4 linked regions of the Homo sapiens genome follow. The protein of the gene in region 2 interacts with the protein of the main gene of each other region in a pairwise test. Each region holds a gene or a part of one and is shown on either strand. Other genes may lie near its edges. The genes, in order: TNPO2, FTO, IL16 and CLP1.

The links.
Region 1: the proteins of FTO (region 2) and TNPO2 interact in binary tests that used the Homo sapiens proteins (3 or more experiments, as listed by UniProt).
Region 3: the proteins of FTO (region 2) and IL16 interact in binary tests that used the Homo sapiens proteins (3 or more experiments, as listed by UniProt).
Region 4: the proteins of FTO (region 2) and CLP1 interact in binary tests that used the Homo sapiens proteins (3 or more experiments, as listed by UniProt).

Annotation. Positions count from the first base shown.
Region 1 is NC_000019.10:12,706,272-12,714,225, forward strand, and holds part of TNPO2 (transportin-2), read right to left. Parts: intron 5,343-7,954; coding exon 5,282-5,342; intron 5,191-5,281; coding exon 5,025-5,190; intron 4,503-5,024; coding exon 4,350-4,502; intron 525-4,349; coding exon 299-524; intron 248-298; exon of another isoform or gene 178-247; intron 97-177; coding exon 1-96. UniProt on the Homo sapiens protein: Probably functions in nuclear protein import as nuclear transport receptor. Serves as receptor for nuclear localization signals (NLS) in cargo substrates.
Region 2 is NC_000016.10:53,707,156-53,715,109, forward strand, and holds part of FTO (alpha-ketoglutarate-dependent dioxygenase FTO), read left to right. Parts: intron 1-7,954.
Region 3 is NC_000015.10:81,290,680-81,298,633, forward strand, and holds part of IL16 (pro-interleukin-16), read left to right. Parts: intron 1-1,876; coding exon 1,877-2,358; intron 2,359-4,338; exon of another isoform or gene 4,339-4,652; coding exon of another isoform or gene 4,653-4,703; exon of another isoform or gene 4,704-4,769; coding exon of another isoform or gene 4,770-4,841; exon of another isoform or gene 4,842-6,248; coding exon 6,249-6,399; intron 6,400-7,954. UniProt on the Homo sapiens protein: Interleukin-16 stimulates a migratory response in CD4+ lymphocytes, monocytes, and eosinophils. Primes CD4+ T-cells for IL-2 and IL-15 responsiveness. Also induces T-lymphocyte expression of interleukin 2 receptor. Ligand for CD4.
Region 4 is NC_000011.10:57,653,259-57,661,139, reverse strand, and holds the start of CLP1 (polyribonucleotide 5'-hydroxyl-kinase Clp1), read right to left. Parts: upstream 3,379-7,881; 5' UTR 3,280-3,378; intron 1,686-3,279; 5' UTR 1,664-1,685; coding exon 1,058-1,663; intron 376-1,057; coding exon 1-375. UniProt on the Homo sapiens protein: Polynucleotide kinase that can phosphorylate the 5'-hydroxyl groups of double-stranded RNA (dsRNA), single-stranded RNA (ssRNA), double-stranded DNA (dsDNA) and double-stranded DNA:RNA hybrids. dsRNA is phosphorylated more efficiently than dsDNA, and the RNA component of a DNA:RNA hybrid is phosphorylated more efficiently than the DNA component.

The sequences.
Region 1 (7,954 bases), on a different chromosome or scaffold from region 2:
TGGTATTTCCCAAAGGCAAAGACAAGGGTGTCCAGGATGTAGCTGAGGTAGGGCACCAGCTCCGTGCAGGCCTCTTCCTCCAGGGTGGCAAAAGCACTGGTGGGAGGGAGGATGAAGCGGGGGCTCAGTGGACCATGGCAGGTGACACTGGGCCATGGGCAGTTGGGGAGGGCAACTCAGGATCAGCCAGTACGAATACGCGATAAATCAGTTCCACATCAACAGTCACAGGTGTCATCACTTCCCAGAGGGTGGCCGGGGGAGAGTGGGGGCTGTGGGATCAGGGGTCCAGGGTCACCTGCAGGCCGCCTCCTGTACCCTCTTGTTGCCATCCAGGATGCGTTTGAGCAGCTCTGTCATCAGGGGCTTGAGGTGCATGTCGGGTGGCTGGCTGACCACCCAGTGGGCATAGCGGCTCAGCGTCCAGCAGGCGATGGAGCGGACCAAGGCCTTCTTATCCGACAGGCACTGGATCAGGTGCGGGATCAGCTCAGGCAGGTAGGGCACCATGCCCTGCATGCAGCCTACAAGGAAAGGGAACCAAGAGGGGGCAGTTTGATTGGGCCCAGCCACACCCACCGTATGGAGAGAAGAGTCAGCCGCACACAACATATAGGGAAACTGAGGCTTAGAGTTTAAATCACTGGCCCAGACTCATTTCACAGAGCCAGGTAAAGGCAGGCACAGGAGGGGAAACAACAGAAGCCTCTCATCCCAAAGCCCCGGGTTATCTTTATTTTTTTTTGAGGCAGAGTCTCGCTCTGTCGCCCAGGCTGGGGCGCAGTGGTACGATCATGGCTCACCGCAACCTTCACCTCCTGGTTCAAACAATTCTCCTGCCTCAGCCTCCCAAGTAGCTGGGATTACAGGCCTCTGCCACAATGCCCGGGGAATTTTTTATATTTTCAGTAGAGACAGGGTTTTACCATGTTGACCAAGATGGTCTCAGTCTCCTGACCTCGTGATCCACCCGCCCTGGCCTCCCAAAGTGCTGGGATTACAGGCGTGAGCCACCGCGCCCAGCCAAAGAGCTCCGTGTTATTGCGTTAATTCAATTCATGCATTAATTCATGTGTTAATTGAATTCATGTGTTAATTCAAAATTGGCTCCGTTACATAGTGAGTGGGGTTTTATGGGGCAGCAGTGACCCAAATGGAATAAAAGCACTTTGCATTTGAAACAGTTCTTAAGATGTTTGTGAGTTTTCTTTTTTTTTTTTTTTTTTTTTTTTTTTTGAGATGGAGTCTTGCTCTGTTGCCCAGGCTAGAGTGCAGTGGTGTGATCTGGGCTCACTGCAGCCTCTGCCTCCCGGGTTCAAGTGATTTCCTGCCTAAGCCTCCCAAGTAGCTGGGACTGCAGGCGCCCGCCACCATACCCAACTAATTTTTATATTTTTAGTAGAGACGGGGTTTTACCATGTTGGCTAGACTGGTCTTAAAATCCCGACCTCACGTGATCCCACCTCAGCCTCCCAGAGTGCTGCGATTATAGGTGTCTGGCCGTTTATGATTGTTCTATTTCTCCTTATTTTTGTTTAATTTTTTAATTTATTATTATTATTTTTTTGAGACGGAGTCTTGCTCTGTTGCCCAAGCTGAAGTACAGTTGCACAATCTTGGCTCACTGCAACCTCCGCCTCCCTGATTCAAGCAATTTTCCTGCCTCAACCTCCCCAGTAGCTGGGACTACAGGCGTGGGCCACCACGTGTGGCTAATTTTTCATATTTTTAGCAGAGACGAAGTTTCACCGTGTTAGCCAGGCTGGTCTCGAACTCCTGACCTCAGTTGATTCAACCGCCTCGGCCTCCCAAAGTGCTGGGATTACAGGCGTGAGCCACTGTGCCCAGCCATTTTTAACAATTTTTTAATGTTTTCTTTGAGACAGAGTCTCGCTCTGTCCCCCAAGGAGGAGTGCAGTGGTGTGATCTCCACTCACTGCAACCTCTGCCTCCCAGGTTCAAGTGATTGTCGTGCCTCAGCCTCCCAATAGCTAGGACTACAGGTATGCACCACCACACCTGGCTAATTTTTGTATTTTTAGCAGAGATGGGGTTTTGCCATGTTGGCCATGCTGGTCTTGAACCCCTGGCATCAGGTGATCCACCCGCCTTGGCCTCCCAGAGTGCTGGGATTACAGGCTTAAGCCACCACACCCAGGGTTTTTTTTTTTTTTTAAAATATCACGAACTCTGCTCTTTTATTTAAAGAGAACAAAGATAATAGCACATTGCCAATAATCCAAGACACAAGATCTATGTTTACCAGTTTGAGCTCAACTCCTATAGATCTTTTTACCATAAACATGTAATACAGGCCGGGTGCGGTGGCTCACGCCTGTAATCCCAGCACTCTGGGAAGCTGAGGCAGATGGATCACCTGAGGTCAGGAGTTCGAAACCAGCTTGACCAACACAGTGAAAGAAACCCCGTCTCTGCTAAAAATACAAAAATCAGCCAGGTGCGGTGGTGGACACCTGTAATTCCAACTACTTGGGAGGCTGAGGCAGGAGAATCTCTGGAACTCGGGAGGCAGAGGTTGCAGTGAGTCAAGATTGCGCCATTGCACTCCAGCCTGGACAGTAAGAGCAAAACTCCGTCTCAAAAAAAAAGAAATTAGCCAGGCCTGGTGGTGAATTCCTGCAATCCCAAGCTACTCTGGAGGCTGAGGCAGGAGAATTGCTTGAACCCGGGAGGCAGAATGTTGTTGCAGTGAGCCAAGATCACACCACTGCACTCCAGCCTGGGCGATAAGAGGGAGACTCCATCTCAAAAAAAAAAGAAAAAAAAAAGAGGCCAGGCGTGGTGGCTGGCTGGGCAAGGTGGCTCACACCCGTAATCCCAGCACTTTGGGAGGCCAAGGCAGGCAGATCATGAGGTCAGGAGATAGAGACCATCCTGGCCAACGTGGTGAAACCCTGTCTCTACTAAAAATACAAAAAAATTAGCTGGGCGTGGTGGCATGCACCTGTAGTCCCAGCTACTCAGGAGGCTGAGGCAGGAGAATCACTTGAACCTGGAAGGCGGAGGTTGCAGTGAGCCAAGATCATGCCACTGCACCCCAGCCTGGCGAGAAAGCAAGACTCAGTCTCAAATAAATAAATAAATAACACAGCTTATGTAATCTATTAACATATGTAAGCGTATTGTGTGATATATACCCTATTAACATGAGATATGAGATACATTAAACACATATTACATGTCGAAACATTTCTTTAGACAATTTTTTTTTGAGACAGGGTCTCAGTCTGTTCTCCATGCTGGAACGCAGTGGCGCAATCATGGCTCACTGCAGCCTTGACCTCTCACCTCAGCCTCCCAGTTAGTTGGGACTATAGGCACTTACCACCACGCCGGCTAATTTTATCAGGTTTTTTTTTTTTTTTTTTTTGGTAGATATGAGGTCTCACTATATTGCCCAGGCTGGTCTTGAACACCTGGGCTCAAACGATCTGCCTGCCTCAGCCTCCCAAAGTGCTAGGATTACAGGCATGAGCCACCACACCTGGCCTTTTTAAAAAATTTTTTGTAGAAAGAGGGTTTCCCTATGTTGCCCAGGCTGGTCTCGGACTCCTGGGCTAAAGCAGTTGTCCTGCTTCAGCCTCCTGAGTAGCTGGGATTACAGGCGTGCACCACAGTAACTAGACAAATTTTAGACAAATTTTGAAAGCTTACAAGGTTGAGGGTTTTTGCTGCCATGCCTGAAATTTTTGGCACAGGTCTGGATGCTGAGGCAATGGTATATGATGCCTCCAACGGACTCACAAAGCCCTCCTGTAACAAGTTTTATGTCCCACCGGGACCATGGGAGCCTGAAAACCCCACCGATTACAGAACACCAGGTTGAATTTGATGAAACACCACCTACCACGGGTTACTACTGACTCTGGCAGGCCAGCCCGGCAGCCAGGAACAGGTTTAAGGCCCAGACACACCCTGAGTGACTGTAAGGAAGTGGCATCAATCTTTCTGTACCTCAGTTTCCCCATCTTCGAAACTGGGATCCGGCACCCAGCTCATCAGGTGGTGGTGAGGGCCAAGGATGTTTGTCTACATAAGTGCACGAGGCAAGCATGCAGCTGTGCCTGCTGTTATTATCATTGTTGCTGTAATTATGCTTACAACATGAAAGAACTACCTGCCTGCAAGAATGAACAAGAGGCCTTGCACTGTGGGGCTCCAGGGGTTCCTTTCAGGCCCAGGAACCAAGGGGAGAATTGAGATCTCAGAGCTGTTTGGAGTGGGGTGAGTAGGCCTCCAGGGAGAACTGAGGCATTGGTGTGGCTAGTAATGTGGGCCAGCCCTACAGTCTCATGCCAGCACAGGGCTCAGAGATCAGGCGCACTCACCCTCAGCAATGGCGCCCAGCACCAGGATGCCCGACTCCTTGACCACCCACTCGGGGTGGAAGAGGAGGCCTTTGAGTAGTGGGAGTAGGTGGGGCAGCAGTTCCTCCCGGAAGACATTGGCGAGGACGTCCAGTGCAGCCGCTGAGCACTTCCCTGGGGAAGGGGGAACAATGGGGAGGCTCAGGGCGGCCCCTCAGGCAGGTGGCCGACCCTCCTTGACTGCACTCCCAGGATCAGAGATCATGCTCAGAATCTTCACGATCAGCTTCTTTTTTTTTGTTTTGTTTTTTTGAGACGGAGTCTCACTTTTTCCGCCCAGGCCGGAGTGCAGTGGCGCTATCTCGGCTCACTGCAAGCTCCGCCTCCTGGGTTCATGCCGTTTTCCTGCCTCAGCCTCCCGAGTAGCTGGGACTACAGGCGCCCGACACCACGCCCGACTAATTTTTTGTATTTTTAGTAGAGACGGGGTTTCACTGTGTTAGCCAGGATGGTGTTGATCTCCTGACCTCGTGATCCGCCCGCCTCAGCCTTCCAAAGTGCTGGGATTACAGGCGTAAGCCACTGCGCCCGGCCACGATCAGCTTCTAATCAGCTTCTGCCTCAGCTTCTAGTCACCTCCCAAGAGGGAGTCCAGGGCTTGCCACCCCACCACCACCCCCAGGCAGGGGCACACACTCAAATTCCAGTCGGACAGAGCATCATCATCATCGTCATCCTCCGCGTCCTCGGAGCCATCAGGCCGCTCAGCCTCGTGGGGCAGTGTGACCGTGCGTGACTTGTGGAAGCGTGGCTTGATGTCCTGCTCACTGTCGGGGACAGCCTCATCCTCCTCCACATCCCCCTGGGGGACAGGCAGACTGTTAAGTACTTTGGGGACCACAGCCGCGACACCCACGCCCATGCCCACCCATGCTGGGTGGGCCCTGCCTGACCTTGAGCAGGATGATGTCAATTTCCGAGTACTTCATCCCATTCACCAAGATGGGGATCAACCTGCACAGAGAGGGACTGTTTATGGGGATGCAGGGGCCGTGGCAAAAGTTGGGGGGAGGCACAGCTTGGGGAGGAGGCAAACAGGTGCCAACAGAGTGACCAGCCCCCCAATCAGCCACAGAGCAGACCCTGCAGAGCATGATGGTACTGCTAGGTGCAAATTGATCCATTTCCCTCTGGGGAATTATCGGAATCTAGTCTCTGCCGCTATGATTAGGATATAAATGATACCACTCCTGCCTCCAGAGAAAGGTTTTTTTTTTTTTTTCTTAAGAAGCAGGGTCTAACCCTGTGGGCGGCAAGCCACCCAGGCACCGAGGCAAGAGACAGAGGACACGAGCTGTTCCAGTATAATAAAATATAAAACAAGAATAGTTATACCAGATATAGATCTTAGATATGATTATATATGAATATCATTAATCATTAGTTTGTAGCAATTACTTTTTATTCCAATATTATGATAATCCTCGCTCTATAATCATAGCCTAGGAAAAACCAGGCCATACAGAGATAGGAGCTGAGGGGACATAGTGAGGTGTGACCAGAAGACAAGAGTGCGAGCCTTCTGTTATGCCCGGACAGGGCCACCAGAGGGCTCCTTGGTCTAGCGGTGACGCCAGCATCTGGGAAGACGCCCGTTACCAGGCGGATCATGGTCCAGCGGTAGCAAAAGGTGTCAAGGAACAACACCCGCTACTTAGCAGACCAGGAAAGTGGGGGAGTCTCCCTTTCCCCGGGGGAGTTTAGAGAAGACTCTGCTCCTCCACCTCTTGTGGAGGGCCTGACATCAGTCAGGTTTGCCCGCAGTTATCCGGAGGCCTAACCGTCTCCCTGAGATGCTGTGCTTCAGTGGTCACACTCCTAGTCTGCCTTCATGTTCCATCCTGTACACCTGGCTCTGCCTTCCAGATAGCAGTAGTAAATTAGTGAAAATACTAATAGTCCCTGATATGCAGAAATAATGGCATACGCTGTCTTTCTCTTTGTCTACTCTCCCTCTCTGCCTCGGCTGCCAGGCAGGGAAGGGCCCCCTGTCCAGTGGACACGTGACCCATGTGACCTTACCTATCATTGGAGGTGACTCACATTCTTTACCCTGCCCCTTCTGCCTTGTATGCAATAAATAACAGCGCAGCCAGACATTTGGGGTCACTACCGGTCTCCGCGCATTGGTGGTAGTGGTCCCCCGGGCCCAGCTGCCTTTTCTATTATCTCTTTGTCTTGTGTCTTTATTTCTACACTCTCTCATCGCCGCACACAGGAAGAGACCCACCGACCCTGTGGGGCTGGTCCCTACGTAACCCTATCACCCAGGCTGGAGTGCACTGGTGCGATCACAGCTCACCACAGCCTCATGCTCCTGGGCTCATGCAATCCTCCTGCCTCAGCCTCCCAAAGTGCTAGGATTATAGGCGTGAGCCATGGCACTCAGCCTGCAGGAAAGCTCTTGACCCAGGCCTGGCCACTCAGTGGATTATAGACCCCTGAATACACTGAAAATCTTGGTACAGTGCCTGGTCCCTAGCACAACATTAAGGCAGGGACATGCGGTCCTATTCCTGGCCACTTTCCTGAGATAGGGCAGAGACTAGCCAGAGTAGGGGAGCAAACAGACTAGGCAGCCAGCCCCTCAGCTGCAGCCCAGAGTTGTAAGTGACAGAGCCTTCATCACCTGCTCATCTAGGTCTCATCACTCCCCAGGAGCCGTCTGCCCAGCCCTAGACTGTTATCAATAATTTGGGGCCGGGCACAGGGGCTCACACCTGTCATTATAGCACTTTGGGAGACCAATGCAGGAGGATTGCCTGAGCCCATAAGTTTGAGACCAATTGGGACAATATAGTGAGACCTCACCTCTAATGAATGATAAATAAATAAATAAATAAATAAATAAATAAATAAACATACAATATGCTGGGCGTGGTGACTCACGCCTGTAATCCTAGCACTTTGGGAGGCCAAAGTGGGCAGAACACAAGGTCAGGAAGCTGAGGCAAGAGAATCGCTTGAACCCGAGGGGCGGAGGTTGCAGTGAGCCGAGATTGTGCCACTGCCCTCCAGCCTGGGCAGCAGAGTGAGACTCCGTCTCAAAAACAGAAATTTCAAAATAATAATAATAATGATCTGGGGGCTGGGTACAGTGGCTCGCACCTGTAATCTCAACACTTTAGGAGACCAAGACAGGAGGACTGCTTGAGGCCAGGGATCCGAGACCAGCCAGAGCAACTTAGCAAGACCTCATCTCTACTAAAACTTAGAAAAGATTAGCTAGGTGTGGTGGGATGTGCCTGTAATCCCAGCTACTTGGGAGGCTGAGGTAGGAGGATTGCTTCAGCTGGGAGGTCAAGGCTGCAGTGAGCCATGATTTTGACACTCCACTCCAGCGTGGATGACAGAGCAAAACCTTGTCTCAAAATAAAAAAGAAAAAAATGATTTGGAGAGAGGCAAGCAATCCAAGTTTGTCAAGGAGGGTCAGTTTTAGGACTTTTGTTGGAAACACTGGTCGAAAATTTCTTTACTCTGAAGTTCCTAAGCTGGAAGGGCACAGAAGGCTACAGCACTACCCAGAGGGAAGGTTGTGCCTAAGAATGAAGCCAACACAAGGGAA
Region 2 (7,954 bases):
ATTGAAATCAAGGCATCAATAGGGCCATACTCCCTTTGAAGGACTCTAGGGGAAACTCCTTCCTTGCCTCTTCCAGCTTCTAGTGTCCCTGGTGTTCCTTGGCTTGTGGTAGCATCACTTCATAACTTCTCTGCTTCCATCTTCACATGGCCTTCTCTCTGTTTCTGTGTCTCAAATCTCTCTCTCCTTTCTGTTAAAAGGATGCCAGTCATTGGATTAGGACCCGTCCTAAATCCAGGATGATCCTGAGATCCTTAAGAGCCTCAACTTAATTACATTTGCAAGGACACTTTTTCCAAATAAGGTTACATTCACACGTGCCGGGTTTTTGGATTCGGACATATCTTTTTGGGGAACAATATTCAAATGCACTGCACCCTTTTACATTCCTACCAACTGTTAGTAGGAATGTAAAATGAGAGTTCTACTTGTTTCATATCTTTTCATCGCTTGTCAGTCTTTTACATTTTAACCATTCTAGTAGGTGTGCAGTGATATTTGATTTTAATTTGCATTTCAGTGATGACTAATGAGGTTGCATATCTCTCTTTTTGTAAATCTTTATTGAGTGAGGTATAATTTACATACCATAAAATTCACCTGTTTTCAGTGTAGGACTCAATGGTTGGTAGCATATTTGCAGAGTCGTGTAACTGTCACCACCGTCTTATTTTAGAACAGTTCCATTCCAGAAGAAACTTTGTATTCATTTGCAGTTATTTCTCAATTCTACTTCCTCCCTAGGGAACCACGAATCTACTCTGTTCTTTAGATTTGCCTTTTCTGGACATTTTTATATAGATGGACTCATACAATATGTGGTCTTCTTTCACCCAGGATGTTTTTGAGGTTCATCCATGTTGTAGCATATATTGGTACTTTGTTCCTTTTTATTACACAGTGGATAGAATTCCAGTGTCAGGCCGAGCATGGTGGCTCATGCCTGTAATCCCAGCACTTTGGGAGGCCAAGGCAGGTGGATCACCTGAGGTCAGGATAACTTAGATCAAGACCAGCCTGGCCAACATGGTGAAACCCTGTCTCTACTAAAAATACTAAAATTAGCCAGGAGTGGTGGCACATGCCTGTAATTCTAGCTACTCGGGAGGCTGAGGCATGAGAATCACCTAACCTGGAAGGCAGAGGTTGCAGAGAGCCCAGATTGTGCCACTGCATTCCAGCCTGGGTGACAGAGTGAGACTGTGTCTCAAAAAAAAAAAAAGAATTCCAGTGTCAGGATATACCATATTTTGTTTATCTGTTCACCAGTTGATGGACATTTGATTTGTTTCTACATTTTGACTATTATGGAAAATGCTACTGTGAACATTTGCACCCTAGTTTTTGTGTGGACGTGTTTTCATTCCTCTTTGGTAGATACTTAGGAGTGGAATTACAGGACTTATGGTAAATCTATGTTTAACATTTTAAGAAACTGACAAACTGTTTACTTGTGTGGCTACACCATTTTACATTTCCCATCAGCCATTTTGAGGGTTACAATTTTGTCACATCCTTGTCAACACTTGTTGTTGTCTGTCTTTTCTATTGTAGCCGTTATAGTGGGTGTGAAGTAGTATCTCATTGTGGTTTGATTTGCATTTCTCTGATGGGTAATAATGTTATGCATCTTCTCATGTGCTTATTGGACATGTGTATATCTTCTTTTGTGAAGTGTCTGTTCAAAATCTTTGCCCATTTTTTTGTTGGATTGTTTGTGTTCCTATTATTAAGTTTTATGAGTTCTTTATATTTTCTAGATATAAATCCTTTGTTTACTATGTGTGTTGCAAACATTATCTTCCATTCATCTAGGTTACTTAATAGTTTTTAAGAAAGGTCCACTTTATCAATGTTTATTTTTATGATTCATGCTTTTTGTGTCATATCTATGCAGTCTTTATCCCAAAGTCACAAAGATTTCTTTTTTGCTTTTTAAATTAAACTTTGTCATCCCCATAATGGGCACTTAGTTTTTATTTTTCTTTTCTCTTTGAAATAACTTAGATCATATTTTCTCTCTTGTGATTGCTTATGCTATGGACTTTTATGCTGTTTCCAAGTCTGGAGGGTGAATAAGAAGGTTGGACCACATAGCTTTCTACGATTAACATTTATTTAATTTGTGTTAAGCACATGAGAATACTATACGGTATTCATGCATTTTTAAAATGAACTTTTCTTCTAAGGCATATAATAGAACAGTCCAGATAAGTATTTGATGGTTTGAGTTAGAACCATGGCGTCTACTATTTCCTTACTGTAGGGATAGGGGATTCATACCCCGTGCCTCAGTTTCTCCAGTCATTAATGAGGTTAAGAATAGCTGCTTCTGTGGGTTGGTGTGAGGACCCAGTGTGATGAGGTCTAGCTACTATTCCAGGGGTAGAGTAGCATGCCCTTGATTGAGTTTGGTGGCCTGAGGGGTCCTCTGCTGGGGTGGGGCTGGCCCTATGCATTTTTTCCCAGATGTTATAATTTATTATTTTGAAATGATTTAAAACTTATTGAAGAGCAAGAGTAGAACCTAGAGCTCTCATAGACCTGTTTGTCCATATTCACAGGTTAACATCTTGCTGTGTTCACTTTATTGCTCTCTTTCTCGCCATATATATCCACATGAACAATTTTTTTAATGAACCATTGCAGAGTAAGTCGGAGACATCAGTCCTCTTTACCCCTAAATAGTTCAGCATATATTTCCTAAGAACATGGACATTCTCTTGCATACAAATATAAACACAATCAATTGTTAATTTCAGAAAAAGTTAACATTGATATAATGCTATTATTTCATCCAAAGTCCATATTCAAATTTTGCTAATTGTCCTAATAATGAATTTTATAGCATTTTTTTCCTGGTCCAGGTTCCATCTGGATTGCATATTACCTTTCATTGTCAGGTCCCTTTGGTCTCTTCTCCTTTAATCTGGTGTCCTTTCATGTCCTTTAAATTGGTTCCTCATCCTTTTTCTTTCAAGACATTGACATTTGTGATGTGTGCAAGCTATCTTTTATTTATTTATTTATTTATTTATTTAATTTTTTTGTAGAATGGCCCTGTATTCTTATTTGTCTTATGTTTCCTTATGATTAGATTCAGATTTTGCCTTTTTTTTTTTTTTTTTGAGACCAAGTCTCGCTCTGTTGCCCAGGCTGGAGTGCAGTGGCGCGATCTCAGCTCACTGCAACCTCCACCTCCCGAGTTCAAGCGATTCTTCTGCCTCAGCCTCCTGAGTAGCTCAGACTACAGACACGTGCCACCACACCCAGCTAATTTTTGTATTTTTAGTAGAGATGGGTTTCACCATGTTGGCCAGCCTGATCTCGAACTCCTGACCTCGTGATTCACCTGCCTCGGCCTCCCAAAGCGTTGGGATTACAGGCGTGAGCCACCGTGCGCAGCCCAGATTTTGCATTTTTGCATGTATATTTTTGAGGAAAGATGGGGCCTCTAGAGGTCACATATTTATAATCCACATATGCCTCCTGGCTGTAGGTAAGTTTTATTTGGCCCAAACAAACTAAAAGTTGTTTCAGAATTATTTTCTAATATTTAAAAGTTGAGGGATTTCACATAAAGATCTGGGTGTCTGACTCTCTTGAAAAACTTAAGTATCTGGTAACAGTGGGCATGCATTTTCCTAACTAGAATTGAATAGTGGCTTCCCTTTTAGGTGGGAAATGTGCTTTCCATTTTGCTGTCATCCAGTTTTGCCCCTTAAGTTACAATATAGTGGTGTAGTGTGGAGCTTTAGATGCAGACTCCTGAGATTGAATTCTGCTCCCTCATTTACTTGCGCAAGCAATTTAACTTCTCTGAGCCTCCATTTCCTCATCTATCAAATAGGAGTGATATGGTTCTGGTAGGGATTGAGATATTATATAGCACATAAAACATTGCTGGCATACAGTAAAAATAAACATTGTTATCATCATCATTATCACCATCATCACCACCACCTTCACTACTGCCTATCTGACCCCAGTAGATATATATTCTGTATGTATATATATATATATGTATTCTGATCCCAGGACGTTTATTCTGTAAACTTATGTTGAGTGTCTAGTCAAGTGGATTTTCTCAAATGGGGTTCCATTAACTTATTTCCCATGCAGCCAGAATGGTACTAGTTTTGTACCACCTTTCAGAAAATTGAGAATATAGTCACTCAAACCATTTTCTGTGTTCTGTGGTTCAGATAAGGAACCTGATTAAGTGTCGAGTAGTGTACTCAGCACCAGGGTAAAGATGGCAGACACAGTCCCATGGAACTGGCTGGCTGTCCATGGAAGGTAAGTAAGTACCAACAGCAGAGTGGTGAGTTTTATCACGGGAGGACACGGTAGCAAAGAGGATCTAACATGGCCTAGTAGTCATGGAATTCCTTCCTTAGAAGATCTGTTTAAAGGTGTATCCTTATGAGAGGCCTGGGATTCCTTACGGGGTTTTTCAGAAACATTAAAACTGTTTCATTAGTCATGGAATAAAAAGCTATGGATGTTGAAATCCAAGTTAGCTTCAAAGACTCTTATGCTGGCTTAGGTTAGATAATCTTTTAAACTATTAAAAATAGAACTAGTTTATTATGGAAATGGTTATATACCTAAGAACATTTAATAATTTTGTTTGAGTAATGTACATTTTTATCAATGAAGGAAAATATCCAGAATATGTAACCTACCGTTTTAAGTAACATGATTTAAAAACTCTTCTGCTTTTGGTGATAGTTGTCTTATCAACTTTAAATGATAAGGTTTATTGAGTTATAAAAATAATAACTTGGCCAAATGCAGTGGCTTATACCTGTAATCCCAATGCTTTGTGAGGCCAAGGTGGAGGAGGCTCACTTGAGACCAGGAGTTGGAGGTTACAGTGAGCTGTGATTATGCCACTGCACTCCAGGCTGGGCAACAGAGTGAGACCCTGTCTCTAAATAATAATAACAATAACTCAACAAAAGAAAGTTTGTTATTTATGTTTTTACTGACTGGGTATTTTTACCTTATTTTATATTTCAAATTTGGCATTTTATTGAGGTCCTGAGAAGGTTCTTTTGGAGTCTACTTTTATTATGGGCCATTCTAGATTATGTCACCAGTTTATCTAAAGTGGACACTAAATATAGGACAGTTTTGGTGTTAGGCCAAAGACCAGGGGACTTGAAAAATGAAAACCTCACCTGACAGATTCTACTCTGTTTTTTTTCCTTCTTCCCGAAATCCATTATTATTTTTTGCTTAATCTCTCCTTCAATATATGGGTAAGCCTTTAATCACTGTTTCGGAGGTTTAGTTGACTTCTGTAAATAGAAGAAGAGTTAGTGTATTTGATCATAGTTTCCAAACCACTTTTAATACTGTACCTTACTTGAAAATTAACCAGCTAAACTATCGAGTAACAGTGAGTTCTTGTTGCTTTCTGTTATTTCCAGGCTGTTTCCTAACCCTCCTAGTACTGGTTTTGAAAACTAAATTAGCCATTCAAAAAAACTCTTAGACACTTTGAGCAAACAGTAGCTTCCTTGAAGATAGCATTTGTGTCTAATTCATCTTTTCATCTCTCCATTGTACCTGGCAGGATGTCTTCCACAAAGGAGACATTAATAAGTATCTGGTGAAGAAAGATTAAATGGTTGAGAGAGTCCAGCATCTGTTATGTGATATATGTGACCCTTCATAATTATGATTCTGGATCCTTGGCTGCTAATGAGATTTACTGTGGCTGAGTTTAGTGATACAGATTTTGGCATGTAGATGATAGTCTCCAAAAAAGTAGAGATCATGTTTTTTTTTTTTTTTCCGTTTTGTCATTCACCATTTTATCCCTAGCCCTTAAGATTTTGCCAGACACATGGTAGATATTCCATACTTGTCAAACAATGAATGAATGAATTCCCAAGAGCATCACTTGTTATTGGTCAGTAGACTTTCTAATAGTGAGAGATGGAACCGGAATTTGAAAGAAGTAATGGAAAATGGTTAAGTACCTTATGAATTTTAAATTAATATACCATAGGTGTGGGCATTAATTTTGAGAAACAAGACTCTTCTGTTCAACACATACTTTAGCAACTGTCAACACTTGTTTTCAAGTGTTCTCTTCCAATTTTAAAATGCCAGTTTACCTTTCAGATTTAGAGTATTTTGTTGTTGTTAGTTTATTATGGCAGTTTTCTTGCTAAAGTTATATTTAAAGTGTGACTTTCTAACTTCTAGAGGAGAGGAACTTTTGTTAAGGTGGTACTTTTGGAACCTTAATGAAAAACACACCTTAGAGAAGGTGAATTTAGAGTTCTGCTAAGCACATTCATTTACTCTTCTATTATAAACTGGTTTTGTAATATTTTATAAAATTGTCTCACTGGTTGATTTCACAATGTAAACTGGGAGGATTCTTAGGATTCCTTGGGTTGGATTAGAACAGGTTCAAGAGATGAAGATTTGTGTTGGTAGGGGCTTGTTTCCAAACGTTTGTCCTTGGCATGCTCTTTGTTAAGCCATCACATGTTTGAAAGTTAAACCTTGAATTGGTGCCATGGTTTGCATTTAAAAAAATGTATTTTATTATGGTAAGAACACAACATAAGATCTACTCTCTTACCACATTTTTAAGTGTACAATAAAGTATTGTAAACTGTAGGTACAATGTTGTATAGCAGATCTCTGGCACTGATTCATCTTGTATAATTGAAACTTTATGCCGCTTGATTAGCTCTTTCCCATCCTCCCAGCCCTGGTCATCATCTTTCTACTCTCTGATTCTATGAGTTTGACTATTAGACGTACATTTTTGTTTTTGCTATAAGCATCTGTCCTGTTGCTATGCTGATCATTTATTTACTCTGTAGTTTTGGAAATGACCTGCTTACAAGATAACCATGCCTCCCCTTATGTTAAAAAACTGCCATATGGATAAAGGGCAGTTAAGACCTTTACAACTGGTAGAAACCAAGTAGAAAATTCAGTTTGAAGGACCAAATTATGTTGCAGCTGCTCTGAGGAGGAGATTTGTTGCCAGAGCATGAGTGTTTTCATAATTGTTTGTGATCAGAAAATTCAGAGCTCTGATTTCTGCATTAGCCCTAAGTCTGCCCTTTGGCACCTTCATTTAGTGATTGGATCATTCAAGGCTGAGCCTCAAGGGCCAGCATTTCTCCAGTAATAATATAAAATGGGCTGATGTTGCAACCTTAACTCACTCTGCTGAATTGGGCATGATTAAAGTCTCAAGGCTGCATTAATATGGATTTTCTATTTCTATGTACAGCCGTCCATTATCTCACTATTTTCCAGTTTGCCATTTTTTGAAAACAAAGATGGAAAATTCTGCTGATGAAATTTTTTTTTTGTCTGTCAGCACAACAGCATTTTTTGGGCTTAAGAATATGAGAATAGCACCGGGCAAATGAATGCAAACATTACAGTTTATGTGGACTCTAGCCTGTTGTCATGTCAATCTTGTTATTTAGGTAAATAGTGTGCAATTTTTCACCAAATCAGCAGCCAATATGCTGCGAGCCATTTTTGTTTTAGTTACATTATTGGCTGGTAACACTATTAATGAGACAATAATTGGGAAATAGTAGTCATTGTTCTCATAAAACACGATCCTTGTGTTGGAACCACAGCCAGGCAGAGGAGTTGCATATGCAGACTGCAAGGGAGGAAAGGATGAGTAGCCAGTGTTCCCAGCTTTTAAAATCATCAGACCCCTGCTGCTTAAATTGCCCCAGCTGTTAATGCTGGAACCATTACAGTAATGGACTCAGCAAATGAAGGAGAACGAAGACACGCACACTTTATTACCAGAGGGGCAATTTTCTCTTCATATGTAATAGCAGCGGTGCCTCATATTGATCAGACCATCAAGATACTAATCCTCTGTAAAATTACTTTTTATAACTGAAAATGTGTTAATCCAAATCAGTCTGTGTCCTGACTGTCTACT
Region 3 (7,954 bases), on a different chromosome or scaffold from region 2:
AAACTAGCAGCCCACCAGCTAAATTTAGCTTATATTTTTGCTTTGTTTGGAAGACACAAGATTTTAAAAGCATCTGAATTTAAATTGCTACAAATGTGCCAGGCTCTCTCCAGCTCCCGGTGGTCTCCACCGTTCCCTTTATCCTGTACCAAGTTGCCATTCACACAATAGCCCCTGCAGGCACTTGAGTTTGCAGCCCCTAGTTTATAATAATAGAATATTAGAAAAACTAACATTTGGGAATATAATTCTGACATTTATTTAATTCTTATAATTCTTATAATAAATCAGAGACTATGCTAATTCATGCATTCACACATAATTTTTATGCAAATTTTATAAGAAAAAGTGAGGCCCTCAGAGACTCTCTTACTCAAAGTCATACCACTAGAGCACAGAGGCTCTGGAATGGAGATCCAGCTGGCTTGACTCCCATGCCTAGCCATTGGGCATTAATCACGTCTACCATGGAACATCCTTATGAAAGAACAACATGCAACCATTGGCACTGATATTGACAAGAAATTAAATGATCTGGGGAAATGTTCAGAGAAAAGAACAGAACACAATTTATTTCAGCTCTGGTTTATTATTTCTACCCACCCAACATGCATATATGCTCGGGAAAGCATGACAGAGAAACTCACCAAAATTTTGACAGTAGTTATTTCTGGCTGATAGGAACACAGGTGAAGTGAATTTTTACTTTCATTCCTTCCTCCTTGTGGCTGAGTTTTCTCTAAGGAGGATGCATTATTTCATGATCAGGAAAAAAAAAAAGAAAACTTTTTATTTAAAGAGAAAGTGAGTTAGGAGCTTGGCTGGCCTTGGTTCTCTCTCATGGGGCTCCTCTGGCTTTCTTGGTCTCTCAGAATGAGCTGGAATTTGAGCAAGAGACTAGATTTCAATCCTCTCCCACCCCTTCAAGCTGTGATTTTAGGAAAGGGGCACCCTTGACAGCTTACCACTAGAGAGAAGGGCCTCTCAAGGATGTGTGGGTAGCCCTAGTGCTGGAAACTAGGGTAGGGGGTACTGAGAACCAGGAAGGGCTAATGGGGAGGGAGGGAGGAAGGTGCAGTGGCTAAGAAATAGCGGCTTTCTGCCCTCACCTCACCCTCAACTGGAAAGAAATAGTGACTTCTTCGTGTAAGATTCAAAGTGCCTTGACAGGTAGTTTCTCTGTCTTTGTTATTGAGCCTCAAAATAACCCCAGTGACTTTAAAATTATCATCCTCATTTTACAGATGCAGAAATGGAGTTGGGTCCCCCAGGAAGCTGACTCTGAGATGGAGTTTGGTCTGCAGGCAGTGTCCTGGGGTTCACTACCTGTGGCAGGGAGGGGAGCAGGCAGGGTAGACAGAGGGAGGACGGAGCTGAGGTGCACACCCAACAGCTTCAGCCAAGCCCTGGAGCTCTGCAGCCAAAGTCCCCATTAGAGTTGTCCTATGTTGGCCAACATAGCTGGGCCTCTGTAACCCTATCTCCAGCAGTCCCTGGAGATGGGCTGCCCCATTGGACAAGGCAGCTGTCTGCAGCTGTGGCAGCCCCTGGAGGGACCCACAGCTGAAAGTAGTCTGCCAGCAGCACTCCCCACAGCTGGGACACCAAGCCCTTCCTCGATGGGTGATCTGGGTGGCATATCTCCATATACATCAGTCATAGGCTCAGAAAGCTTGAATGATTTTCCCAACCCAAAGTCATACAGCTCGCCAGGGACCAACACCAAGACTGCCATACTCCAGATCCACAGTGACTTCAGATAAGAAGCAGATGGCCGATGTGCAGTGTGCTGCCCGTGGCAGTCACAGGTGAGGCCAGGGGGTATTTCTGTTTTCTGAAGCTCAGCTGTGAAGATTCTCTTGTGCTTCCCACACAGGTGTCAAAAGGCTGGAAAGCAGTTGGCACGGGCGGCCCACCTTGGAGAAGGAACGAGAGAAGAACTCAGCACCCCCGCATCGCAGGGCTCAGAAGGTCATGATCCGCTCCAGCAGTGACAGCAGCTACATGTCTGGGTCCCCAGGGGGAAGTCCTGGGAGTGGCAGTGCTGAGAAGCCGTCCTCTGACGTGGACATCAGCACACACAGCCCCAGCTTGCCTCTGGCACGGGAGCCAGTGGTGCTTTCTATAGCATCCTCCAGGCTGCCCCAGGAGAGCCCACCCCTCCCAGAGAGCCGGGACAGCCACCCGCCGCTGAGACTGAAGAAATCCTTTGAGATTTTGGTGAGAAAGCCTATGTCCTCCAAGCCCAAGCCTCCACCCAGAAAATACTTTAAAAGTGACAGTGACCCTCAGAAGAGTCTGGAAGAGAGAGAGAACTCCTCATGCTCTTCTGGGCACACCCCACCCACCTGTGGCCAGGTAAGAGGATGGGTCCACAGGTTGAGTGTTTCCAGGACCAGACTCAAATCTTGAGCATGGGCAAATTAGCAAGTTAGTGTTAGCAGGGCCAGAATGAAAGTTTCTCCTGCTCCACCAGAGAGAAACTGTTGCCTAGGACTCAGCTGAGGACTGACCATGAAAAGATGGGTTTGAAGGTTGACAGATAATTGAAGTCCCAGTCCTGCTTGCTGGCATCTGGGTTCCCACCCATAACACACTGGAATTTAAGGTTCCTTTCTTGTGTCATTTTTCACTCACCATGAAGGAAAAATACCAGGGCCCCTGCAGGGTCTCAGTCTTTGCATGTGGATCTTTGAGTGTCCTGCTTGTAGGGAGAATAGTGGCTTAAATAACTAAAAAGGGGCCTGGCACGGTGGCTCATGCCTGTAATCCCAGCACTTTGGGAGGCTGAGCCGGGTGGATCATGAGCTCAGGAGTTCAAGACCAGCCTGGCCAAGATGGTGAAACCCTGTCTCTACTAACAATACAAAAATTAGCCGGGTATGGTGGCAGGTGCCTGTAATCCCAGCTACGCAGGAGGCTGAGGCAGGGAATTGCTTAAACCCGGGAGGAGTGGCTCCTTCCAAGGGCTATTGTGAGGATTAAAGGTAACCACTTAAGGCAAGTACCTGACAGCATCTCAGGCATATTAGCATTCATTGCCATGATCTTTCCCCATCAGGCCCCTTAAAGCCCTCCTTTCCACCCCTTGCATAAAAGGCAGACTGACTGACAGACAGCTGCTGTGTCTAGAACCATTTTATGCGCAGGCTAACCACACTGAGTACTTTCATGTACATTGTGTCAATTAAATCTTACAACCACCTGATGGTGAGAGTCCCAGTTGTGCAAAGAGGGAACTGAGAAACTCGCTCAAGTTCACATTGCTAGTGGGTCACAGTTACCCACTATGCAATGCTGAGTTTCCCATCCTTACCCAGAAGCTGTCTCCCCCATCACGGAATGGCCCTGCAGGGGCCCTGGCCCTTCCCTTAAGCACACCGTGGGCAGGTGGGAGGGGGCCTCTGGAAATCCCCTAAAACAATCTACAGTGAGGGTTGGCAAGCTTCAGGAGGGGTAGCGGTGGAGACGGGATGTTGAGTAGGAGGGGTGAAAGTGAAGGAGGGAGGAGGAAGCCAGGTTACTAAAAAGGAAGTGCAGTTTTGCAGAGCGCTGGCAGGATGTGGCTGGTTAGCAACACATGATGGAGTTATCAGATGGATCTGTTCTCCCACCCCCTCTTTTAAGCCCATATTTCATTTTCCCTTGGGCCTGAGACCTATGAGTCCAGAAGGGCAAATCAGGAGCAGCCAGCTGAGAAGCCAGTCATTTTGCCTTCCTCCTGGAGGCCCAGAAAAGGAGTGCAGTTGCCACAGCAGGTCTGTCCCAGTGATGCCCTTGGCAGAGCCACATAGGGTCAGGGAATATTCCCGAGTAAGGCGTCTGGAGAAGGAACTGGGGTGTCCTCAGGGAAGCCCAGGCAAGGAACTTCCCACAGGTCATCTTTCATGCCCTGTGTGCCTCAGCAGAATACAGGGCTCCCTCCTGTACCTGCCCCCAACAGCACCGTCTCCTGGAGACAAGGCCGTTCTGCAGCTGCCCTCCTCTGTTTGCTCTGGTCTGTCCCACGTGGCCAGCAGATCCTTCTCCCACAAACATTTCCATAAAAGCAATCAGCACGACATAATTTTATTGGGCACTGGAGAGGCGGGGGTCACAGAGAAAGGATCATAGCACGCAATAGAAAACAGGAAGCAATTTGCTTGAGGTCACTCTCAAAATTTCCTTGACCATTCCTGGGGATTTCTCACTGGATGTTTTCTTCCGTGGCCACAGTGTCCACTGTCTCACTCTCCCACTTTTCCCTCCCTGCAGTCTTTTCTCTACAGGGTCCCAAGACTGTTGTCAAGCTGCTATGGATGACCCCCAAGTCTTTCCCATCTACTCTAATTCAAGGGGACTTAACTCTCACAACCAATATGAACTTTGGGATATTTTCTTCAACAAAAAACTAACATCCCTCTTATAAAAAATCAGCCTAAACTCTCCCCCGTGCTTTAAAAAACTTGCTTAAAAAAACACAACAGGATTTTCGAAGAATCCTTTCTTAGAAAACAAACAAAAAAACCAAACAAAAACGTACTTTCTCCCCACTATGCTGAATCTGCTCTCTCCCTCTTTCCTTCTTTCTCTTCTCCCTCCCTCATCCACCAAGCATGGTTCCAGGAAACACTAGTAAGAGAAAAATTTGTGTAAAATCAAATTTATTTCAGGGGCTAATTCTGAAGTCTCCCATGAAGAGGATGCAATATTGGATGTGTTGATGAAAAGACAAAACACATTTGTGCTGTTCTAAGTTGTAAAGCTGCATTGACTGCAGTTGGTATCACATGTGGCTGCCTGTAAAAGAGCTAACAATTCATGAATGTCAACAGATGTCAACTTACAGAGCTCCCAACCAGGTGAAATTAAATTTCATCCCCATGTAATTTCTCTTGTGGACAAGAGACTTAGAGATCATCAGGCCAATATTTGGAGCTTCTAATGCCATGACTCAGCCTTACTTTTTTTAAGGGCTAGTTCGAGAAGCTCAATGATTCCTTTGAAATTGGTTGATCTCTCAGTATTTCATAATGCTCTCCTAAAGCTCAGTTCTACAGTAGGGAACTCGAGCTGAGGCAATGCTCTGTGAATACACTTCTAACTTTTGTAGACCTTTGCTTCCTCCAAAATGTTTATTGTCAATGTAGATCTTAAATTTCAGGTCATGGATATTTGCCATTGCTTTTTTAGTCCCAAAGGATGCATTTGTTCCTTCCTCTTTCCTTCCTCTCTGGAAGGAAGCCTGCAGCCATGTCAAATGGCCCATCATTACACAAATCTGGAATGAACCGGACGTGGAGGCCACCGCAGTATAGCAAAGCATTTCTCTTGCAGACAATCAAATACAGGTGGCATCATTTTGATGATGTCTGCTTTCTCAATCTTTTTTTCCAGATGGGTATTATGTTTGGTTGGGCTATGTCTCTGGAACACTATTTTTCTGCCTCTCTGCCTGCAAAATTCTTACTCTGTTTATGAAGCAGACAGAAAGTACTTCTCTAGGAAGCCTTCTCCACCTCTGGGATGGAACTGGTCTCTCTGTTTCCTCTGGGCCCTGACAGTACCTTAAGCACACTGTGTGATAATCCAAACTCTTCAAGTATTGCATAGCTATTCAGAGCCTGGTTCATCTTGTCCCTAGGCTGTTTTGGGAGGACCCCAAGGCTGCATCCAGGCTCAGTGGTGGAAACAATTCTGCAACAGATTGAGGATGTCACCCTAGGTGCCACAGAGGGGAGCAATGGCACAGGTGCTGAGTATCTGTCATCTTTTGCAGAACACTTACTAAATATTTGAAGAGTGCTTAACAAGTGACAGCAATTGACAAGCATTTTCCTGAGTGCTCTAACCTTAGGGAACACTAGCTGCCAGGTTTTTTTGCTGCCTTGTTTCTACGCTGCCCTATACCCTCCCGGGGTGGGTAGTTCACCAGATGCAGTTGTAACTGAAGCAATGCCAGTCCCTCCACACTCAAAGCCTTTTGTTCCTATCATAAAGAGTCAGGGTCTTCAAGTATGTCAACAGTATGAGCCCATGACCTGGATACCAGGTTGCTGGAAGTCAAGGGATGCTCTGCATGTCTAGGAGGTGCTGGCTCTGCCACGTCAGCACCAAGGAGAAAAGAATCCTCTTTACATGGCTGCTGATGAACTTCTCACTGAAAGCAGCTCAATATCCGTTTTTCCGTCCCAATCAAAGCGTGTCTCGCCTTCTCACAGCTTGAGGCTACCGTTTTGACATGGTCTCGCTTCCTGTTTACACCACAGGAAGCGAGAGAGCTGCTGCCACTGCTGCTACCACAGGAAGACACAGCAGGGAGAAGCCCTAGTGCCTCTGCCGGCTGCCCAGGACCTGGTATCGGCCCACAGACCAAGTCCTCCACAGAGGGCGAGCCAGGGTGGAGAAGAGCCAGCCCAGGTAAGCTTTCATTGAGATCTTCCAAAAGGAAGGGTCTTTTGAAAAAAGGTGCAGGGATAAGATAAGAGCACAAATTGGCCTGAGGATCAGAGTGCTCTGCATTGACATCACCACTGGACCTGGCTGATCAACAGTCAAGGGTTCCAGGTGCTGGGCAGCAGCACCGTGGAGGTGCTGTCCAGGGTGGGGAGCCTCCTGGGTGGACGGGTGATGCTGTGGGGGTGGCAGCAGGAATGCAGGCCATTCTGGATAATTGGGAGGATGGAGCCCTTGGAAGAGGTCCAAAGACACACCCACCCAGCCATCCTGGGCAGCTACCTCTAGGGTGCCAACATTCCAGTTGCAACAGTCCTGCTGCATTCAGGATTTCTGAGTCAGAGAATGCAACGCCAGAAAAGTATAAATAGCATCTACCAGTGGTCACCTCCTCCATGAGGTGGATAGCAAGGGTGTGTCCACATGGTACACCTGACAATGCTAAGACATGACTTGAATATTTATTTGCTTGCTAGAGAGAGCATAGGACTTGAAGTCAGGGAATCCTGGATCTGTCTGTCATTAGTATGATTCTGAGCAACCTACTTTGCCTTTCTGAGCCCAGATTCACTCATCAGCAATGTGTGGAAGAGCACGTAGACCCCAAGCATATGATGCATTCAGCAAGCACACATTGAATGCTGGCTTCGTGAGGCCCTGTGCTAGATGCTGGGGGGAGAGAGAGAAAGGGATGAGACCAGGTAGTCAGGTCCTGCCTCCAAGGAGCAACTAGTAGTGGCAGGAAATAAACATATAGACTATAAAACATATGACTGTTTGAGTAACACTACAGAAAAGCTCATGAAAGACTTTTGGAGGGCTAAGGGACATTTTGGAAAGATCTAGCACATCTCACCCAGAGCAGAGGCCCTGTGGGTGGAGGCTCCTCTCCCTTAGTCACCCTAATTGAGGAACATTCTAGCAAAAGCAAACGCCTCAGTGTTTAACTGACAGGAGGTTGTCACTCCAATCTGCAAAGGGCTTGCCTGTGGAACCTCTGCCTCCTGATTCTCACAACAGCACCTTACAGCCAAGCCATTCAAAAATGCAGAAACAGGCTGGAGGCCTGGGCTCACTTGCCCAAGGCCAGTCTCTTAGATTGTGCAGAATTTCTCTTTGATATCATCAAGGTGTAATGCTCCATGATTCACTTCTTTTGAAACCTGGCATTGAGACAAGGGACAGGAGGGATCAGAGTTCCTTCAACTGGGTTGCGTTCCAGTAGCAAGCATCCCCCAAGGCACACAGGCCAGCCTCCCTCTGCCCCTGGGAAAGAGAGCCAGGACACCCTCTCCCTTACCCATGCAGATATGATGCTGGTTCAATGCTGGCTTCTGAGAAAGACTCCTATGTGCTCCAGGGCATGCCTGAGGTCCTGGCTGGCACAGAGCAGGTTGCACATTGCAATCCCCTGCTCATCACATTCCCAACACCCAGGCTGCATCCCAGGTATCTTCAGTCAGTACCTAGGGGTGGGCGTCAGTATTTTTCAGGGCCCTCCAGATTCCAGTATGTAGCC
Region 4 (7,881 bases), on a different chromosome or scaffold from region 2:
GTAGATTTTCACATCTGAAAATTTGACATTGAAGGCATGGGGATAGAAACAGCCTCGGAATCCATAAAAATACTCACGGATACGCTCATCCCTACATTCCCGCCGGAAGTCCTTGGAGCGCTCCACCACACCCCCAGATTTAGGGAGCAGCACAGTGCGTACAAAGTGGGGGAGGTCCCGTTTCAGTTCATTGTACAGTCGTTCTTGATCCAGAACAACAACGACATCCACCTCAAAAGCTGAGGCTGCATGCACCAGAGCCTGGTAACCAGAGCCCTTGACCCAGCCACAGGTGTTAATGACACAGCCACTCACAGATGCCCTTCGGTTCACCTCACACCTTTGGTTGAACACATCTGCTAAACGAGATGTAATCTGCAAAAGAGAGGATCAAGGTAAGAACAAAAACACCCAGACAAACCCATGGCTACTTTGTTCCTCTTTAGAATAAGTGCTATTAGATATAAGAAAAATGATTTTTTTTTTGAAATGGAGTCTCACTCTGTTGCCCAGGATGGAGTGCAGTGGCACGATCTCAGCTCACTGCAACCTCCACCTCCCGCGTTCAAGTGATTCTCCTGCCTCAGTCTCTGAACAGCTGGGATTACAGGCACCAGCCACCACGCCCAGCTACTTTTTGTATTTTTAGTAGAGACAAGGTTTCACCATGTTGGCCAGGCTGCTCTCCAACTCCTGACCTCAGGTGATCCACCCGTCTCAGCCTCCCAAGTTGTGGGATTACAGGCATGAGCCACTGTACCCAGCCTGAAAAAATGACATTTTTAATGGCTGTAGTTTTGATACCATAACATGGATTTAATTTTTATGTTGCTGCTTCTGCCTCCTGTTTTATGCCCTAAGTGAAAATCTAACAAATTACTAAGAATAGATCCACAGAAATGTTTAACAATCTGAGACTGACATATTTGGAATTGCCTTTCTAAAGTAATGCAGCAGAAATACCAGCTGAGAAAATGCAGTGTTAACTAGTAAACTTCTCCAGTTTCCTACCCTGATAGCAGCCCTTCCCTCCACCCCACCTTTCTCTGGCTCTGACCTTATTATAAAGCTTGATGTTAGTGCCAGGAGTGGTGGAACCAAAATGATACACCAGAGGGGCCTGGATAGAGAAACCCTCTTCGACATCTGCAGGCCGCTCGATGTAGAGGGCCCCCATGGTACCAGGGATGGACACAGAACCCTGGCCCACATCCAGCTCCACATAAGTGGGACGGCGGCCCAAACGCACTGCGTAGTTGAGCAGAAGGCGACACACTGTAGACTTGCCCACATCAGTGGGGCCCACTACCATCACTCGGGGACCTCGCTCTTCTTCCTTTTCCGCTTGCCTCCGCATCTGTTCCAAGGCTGTGTGAGTGTTGAGGTAAAGCAACATAGGAGTGTCCTTGGAGACATAAGCCACCTCAGTGCGGCCGCTCAGTTGCACAGAACAGCCATGCCAAGTGAAAACAGCCACCTTGGCACCAGCATCAAAGGTGAATTTCTTGTTTCGGGTCAGCTCTGTGCCAAAGATCTCTGCCATGCCAGTCAACAACTCCAACTGAACTGACTGAGATGCCTCCACCTCAAAGCGAAGTTCTGTTTCTCGCTCTAGTTCAAATTTAGTGGTTGGCTTCTTGTCATCATTAGCCTCTTCTCCCATCTCTTCTGTGTAGCTGCTGTGCCTAGAACACAAATTAAATATCAGATCTAATTATAAGTCAGTCTTCTGTTACAAAAACATCCAATGGGGCCAGGCATGGTGGCTCACGCCTGTAATCCCAGCACTTTGGGAAGCCGAGGTGGCTGGATCACTTGAGGTCAGGAGTTCAAGACTAGCCTGGCCAACATGGTGAAACCCTGTCTCTACTAAACATACAAAAAAAAAATTAGCCGGGCATGGTGGAGGGTGCCTGTAATCCCAGCTCTTTGGGAGGCCAAGGCAGGAGAATCGCTTGAACCCAGGTGGCAGAGGCTGCAGTGACCCGAGATTGTGCCACTGCATGCTAGCCTGGGCAACAGAGCAAGACTCCATCTCAAAAAAAAAAAAAAAAATCATCCAATGGGCCAGGCACAGTGGCTTAGGCCTGTAATTTCAGCACTTTGGGGCGCTGAGTTGGGCAGATCCCCTGAGCTCAGAAGTACAAGACCAGCCTGGGCAACATGGTGAAACCCCGTCTGTAGAAAAAATGCAAATATTGGCCAGGCCTGGTGGCTCACGCCTGTAATCCCAGCACTTTGGGAGGCCAAGGTGGGTGGATCACCTGAGGTCAGGAGTTCAAGACCAGCTTGGCCAACATGGTGAAATCTCAGTATTTACTAAAAAATACAAAAATTAGCCAGGCATAATGGTGGGCGCCTGTAGTCCCAGCTACTCAGGAGACTGAGTCAGGAGAATCGCTTGAACCCAGGAGGTGGAGGTTGCAGGGTTGCAGTGAGGCGAGATCATGCCACTGTACTCCCGCCTGGGTGACAGACCAAGGCTCTGTCTCAAAAAAAAATAAAATAAAATAAACAAATAAATAAATAAATAATAAAAACATACAATGAATGTTTCCCCTTACCTTGCTTTAATTCTCTCCATATTTCTTATCACCATCGGTCTCACTATATATTGTGTCTTCCCCGCCTCCTCCACCCCAAAATGTAAGACTTAGGCATTTTTGTTTGATACTATATACTGCTTAGAATACAGCTTGACAGACTGTAGGCACCTCAATACATTGAGTGAATTAATGTCTCAGACATCAGAGAAAAACCATACCTACAGACTGACAGAAGATTTAATTATATCACCCTCCATCACTCTATTGGTAAACTCCAAACTTGAGAAGGTAACAGATGCCCTGACCCCAATCATCCTAGTCAACAGGAAAGGGCGTCTGAAATACGGATGCAAAGCAGAGCACACCGGGTCTGAACTCAGAAAACAGCCTAATCCTCGTCTCTGTAACTACTAGTAGTGTCTTTAGACAATCACTTAACTTCTCTGAACCTTTGAAGCTGTCGACTGGAAGCACTTACACTTCCTCAAATACAGTGTTGTTCTTGGGGTTTACAGGAATTGTGGGAGGAAAAAAAAGCACTTCGTAAACTAGAAAACGGCAAGGAAACGATATGAATTATTTCTGATCCTGGACTGCAGCTCTAGCTCCAGCATTTGTCCCAACCTTCCCAGACACCAAAATCTCCCCAAGACACCAAAATCTCCCCAGACACCAAAATGTCCCCAGACCCCAAGGAGGTGACAGTTGTGTTCCTGCCCTTTTTTTAACTCACCTGCGCAGCCAGGAGCCCAACAGGTAAACTCAGAAGGTCCTCCCGTGCAGAATTTAAACCAAACTACAAGCGGTTCTTGCCCGGACCCACGCCGGAAACAAACGCAGTTCCGCACTTGCGCTGTGAAAGGACACGCGGTCGCGCGCTGCCCTTTGGGATGTGTAGTTTGCCGGAGCAGCCGAGAGCGGGTGCACTCGCTAAGCCGCTCGGCCTTCTGGGAGTTGTAGTCAAAGGATTGTTTTGAACGTGACGCCAAAGGTGGGAGGGGCGGCTGTTGTCATTATTCGTGCAGCCGGAGGGAGGGGTGAGGAGGCGTGGCGGTTGCGCCCCCGCGCTGGGCAGGGACAGGTCGAGGGACCAGGCTTCGGCAGTGCGCGTCCGCGGCGGGAATCTCGCCCCAGATTTCCTGCTCCCCTGCAGCCCAGGAAACAGAAGGGAGGCCCGGGAGAAAGAGAGACTCACTGTCTCGGTCTAGGTCCCGCGACGGCCTGCTTGCCTGGACAAGCCACGAAGCACAAAATCCTTTTTAGGCAGGGGGAAACCCAGGGATAGAGAAAGCGGAGGAAGACAGCCTGACAGAGGTTTCACCAAGCTGTCATCTCCCACCTGACACAGTGCTTGGCACATGGAAGGCATTTCAAATTTTTTTTCTTTAATAAAAGAATAAAAATCCGATGATTTCTTCCAGCTACAAGTCAGTCATTACCCAACAACCTCTCTCCCACTAAACGAGGATTTTTGTTAGGCACTCATTTCCCTCCATAAATCCCTGACAGTTACAGGTCAGTCATTTGCCCCGCAGCCAACAGGTTCCACCACGTCTATAATCCTCTTTTTACTACCTTGGGCTTTGGAATCTTATATTATTTGCTATACTGCTTACATTACTGTGTGACTTTGAGCAAATCACAGGCTTCATCTCTCTGAGATCGTTTTTTTTTTTCTTTTTGTTTTTGAGACAGGGTCTCACTCTCTCGCCCAGGTTGGAGTACAGTGCCGCGAACATGGCTCACTGCAGCCTCGACCTCCTGGGCTCAAGCGTGATATCGTTTTTTGTCTGCAAAGTTGGGATAATAACAGTGCCCAACCTCCTAAAGTTGTTTTGACGATTGCAGGAATGTGCCTGTAAAGTACTAAGTACAATGCCTGTAATATAGAAAAAAATCTGATATCAGCTTTTACGTTTTTATTATAGGCTGGGGCGGAAGGGGCTATAATATCATTCATTCGTGCAATACTTAACATTTTTCAGATCCCTTTCAGGCATCTTCTTTCACAGCCACCCTGTAAAGACAGCTTTATTATATCCAATTTCAGATGGGGGAGGAGACTCAGATAGGTGCAGAGGTTTGCCCAAACATTAACAGCCATTGGTAGAGCTAGGACTCAAACCCAGAGTTTCTGAGTCCGGTTATAATAATAGTAAACATTTAGGCCAGGCGCGGTGGCTCACGCCTGCAGTCTCAGCACTTTGGGAGGCCGAGACGGGCGGATCACCTGAGGTCAGGAGTTCGAGACCAGCCTGACCAACATGGTGAAACCCCATCTATACTAAAAATACAAAAATTAGCTAGGCGTGGTGGCGGGCGCCTGTAATCCCGGCTACTTGGGAGGCTGAGGCAGGAGAATCGCTTGAACCGGGGAGGCGGAGGTTGCAGTGAACTGAGATCACGCCACTGCACACCAGCCTAGGCAACAGAGTGAGACTCTGTCTCACAAAAAAAATCACATTTAAGGCAGGGCGTGGTGGCTCACGCCTGTAATCCCAGCACTTTGGGAGGCCGAGGTGGGTGGATCACGAGGTCAGGAGATCGAGACCATCCTGGCTAACATAGTGAAACCCCGTCTCGACTAAAAATACAAAAAAATTAGCTGGGCGTGGTGGCAGGCGCCTGTAGTCCCAGCTACTAGGGAGGCTGAGGCAGGAGAATGGCCTGACCCCGGGAGGCGGAGCTTGCAGTGAGCTGAGATCCTGCCACTGCACTCCAGCCTGGGCGACAGCGCGAGACTCTGTCTCAAAAAAACAAAAACAAAAAACAAAAAACCACATTTATATACTGTTATATGCCAGATACTGGTCTATGGACTTTTCAGGTGTAAATTCATTTAATCGTAGCCAGAATCCTATGCAGTAGGTACTATAATTGTCATCTCCACTTTACAGGTGAGTACTTTTTTCAGTCCGGCTCACGTAGTTAATTCATATTGAGGAGACTGGGAAGATTTTCTGGTTCGCCAGAAAGATTTTCTCCTGCTGGCCCTACTTAGCAGCACTCCCCAAGCAGTGCCATCCTCACTTATCACTTCTGAGTTTTTCTTTGATGGTTTGCTTTAATTATTTCATTCATTGAACATATATGCATTAGCTTTTTTTTTTTTTTTTTTTTTTTTGAGATGAGGTTTTGCTCTGTTGCCCAGGCTGGAGTGAAGTGGTGCAATTTCAGCTCACTGCAACCTCTGCCTCCTGGGTTCAAGTGATTCTCCTGCCTCAGCCTCCCAAGTAGCTTGGATTACAGGCGTGTGTCACCACGCCCAGGTAATTTTTGTATTTTTAGTAGAGATGGGGTTTTCACCATGTTGGTCAGGCTGACCTCAAACTTCTGACCTCAAGTGATCTGCCCATCTCCGCCTCCCAAAGTGCTGAGAACACAGGCGTGAGCCACCACGCCCGGCCTATGCATTAGTTTTTCAATTAACTATTGTGTGTCCCCTAATCTTCCACTCTTCTTTAAAAATTCAGTTCCAGTCTTCCATTTGCAAATTTTCTCCCTGAGTGGGCTTATCCTCGCCTTTTTCCATGCAATCTATCTCCGAGATCTGTATCTTCGCCTCTACTATCTCCCTTGAGGCAGTTTCTCCCAGTTACCTGAAAGTTGTTTTTATTTGGATATTGTATAACCATCTCAAGCTGAACTTAGGGAAAAGAACCCCTCCTTTCCTTTAGGCTGCTCTCCATTTTGCCTCTAAAATACAGAAAGAGTCAGGACACAACATTTAAAGCATCTGTGCTTGACTACACTCTCTTCTCTCACTTTTTTTTTTTTTTTTTTTTTTTTTAGATGGAGTCTTACTCTGTCTCCCAGACTGGATTGCAGTGGTGCGATCTCAGCTCACTGCAACCTCCATCTCCCGGGTTCAAGCGGTTCTCCTGCCTCAGCCTCCCGAGTAGCTGGGATTACAGGTTTCCACTGCCACACCCAGCTAATTTTTCTATTTTTAGCAGAGACAGGGTTTCACCATGTTGGTCAGGCTGGTCTCGAACTCCTAACCTCAGGTGATCCACCTGCCTCGGTCTCCCAAAATGTCGGGATTACAGGCGTGAGCCACGGCGCCCAGCTCTTTTCTCAGTTTTAATCTTTCACCAAGCACTCCTGCCATCTCCACCCCACCTCCAAACAATACCGTCATCATATGTTCTTTTTCTCCTCTCCAGCTAGATCCTTGATCATTTTCTTTTTGCTTCCAAACTTTCTTTCTTTCTTTCTTTCTCTCTCTCTCTTTCTTTCTTTTTCTTGAGACATAGTTTCGTTCTTGTTGCCCAGGCTGGAGTGAAGTGGCGCAATCTCGGCTCACTGCAGCCTGCGCCTTCCGGGTTCAAGCAATTCTCCCGCCTCAGCCTCCCAAGTAGCTGAGATTACAGGCGCCCGCTGCCATGCCCAGCTAATTTTTGTATGTTTAGTAGAGAAGGAGTTTTGTCATGTTAGCCAGGATGGTCTTGAACCCCTGACCTCAGGGTCATCTGCCCGCCTCAGCCTCCCAAAGTGCTGGGATTACAGGTGTCCGGCCTGCTTCCAAACTTTGAATCCGAGCTGGGCCCAGTGACTCACGCCTGTAATCCCAGCACCTTGGGAGGCCAGGGTGGGTGGATCACTTGAGATCAGGAGTTCGAGACCGGCATGACCAACATGGTGAAATCCCGTCTCTACGAAAAATACAAAAATTAGCCAGGCATGGTGGCACATGCCTGTAATCCCAGCTACTCAGGAAGCTGAGGTGGGAGAATCACTTGAACCCGGGAGCCGGAGGTTGCAGTGATTCTCGATCATGGCATTGCACTCCAGCCTGGGAAACAGAGCGAGATTCCATTTCAAAGAACAAACAAACAAACAAACAAAACAAAAGAACTTTCGATCCATGCCTTGAAAACTAATCATTTGCCTTTTCCCACTTCTCATTGTTCTCCTCAACAATTGCTTTTCAAAATCTTTTTTTTTCTTTTTTTTTTAAATTTTATTATTATTATACTTTAAGTTTTAGGGTACATGTGGTGCACAACGTGCAGGTTTGTTACATATGTATACATGTGCCATATTGGTGTACTGCACCCATTAACTCGTCATTTAGCATTAGGTATATCTCCTAATGCTATCCCTCTCCCCTCCCCCCACCCCTCAACAGGCCCCAGTGCGTGATGTTCCCCTTCCTGTGTCCATGTGTTCTACTTTTATCTCCCCTCTCTTCTGCTGCCCAAACAAAAGCACTTCTCTCTTCTTTCTTTACCTAGCTTTTTCTCTCAATTCCAAATCTCTAGTACTATCCCTCAAGACACCCACATTGTCTTTTCAGAATTTACTTTAAACCCCAGAATCTTCCCTGATTAAA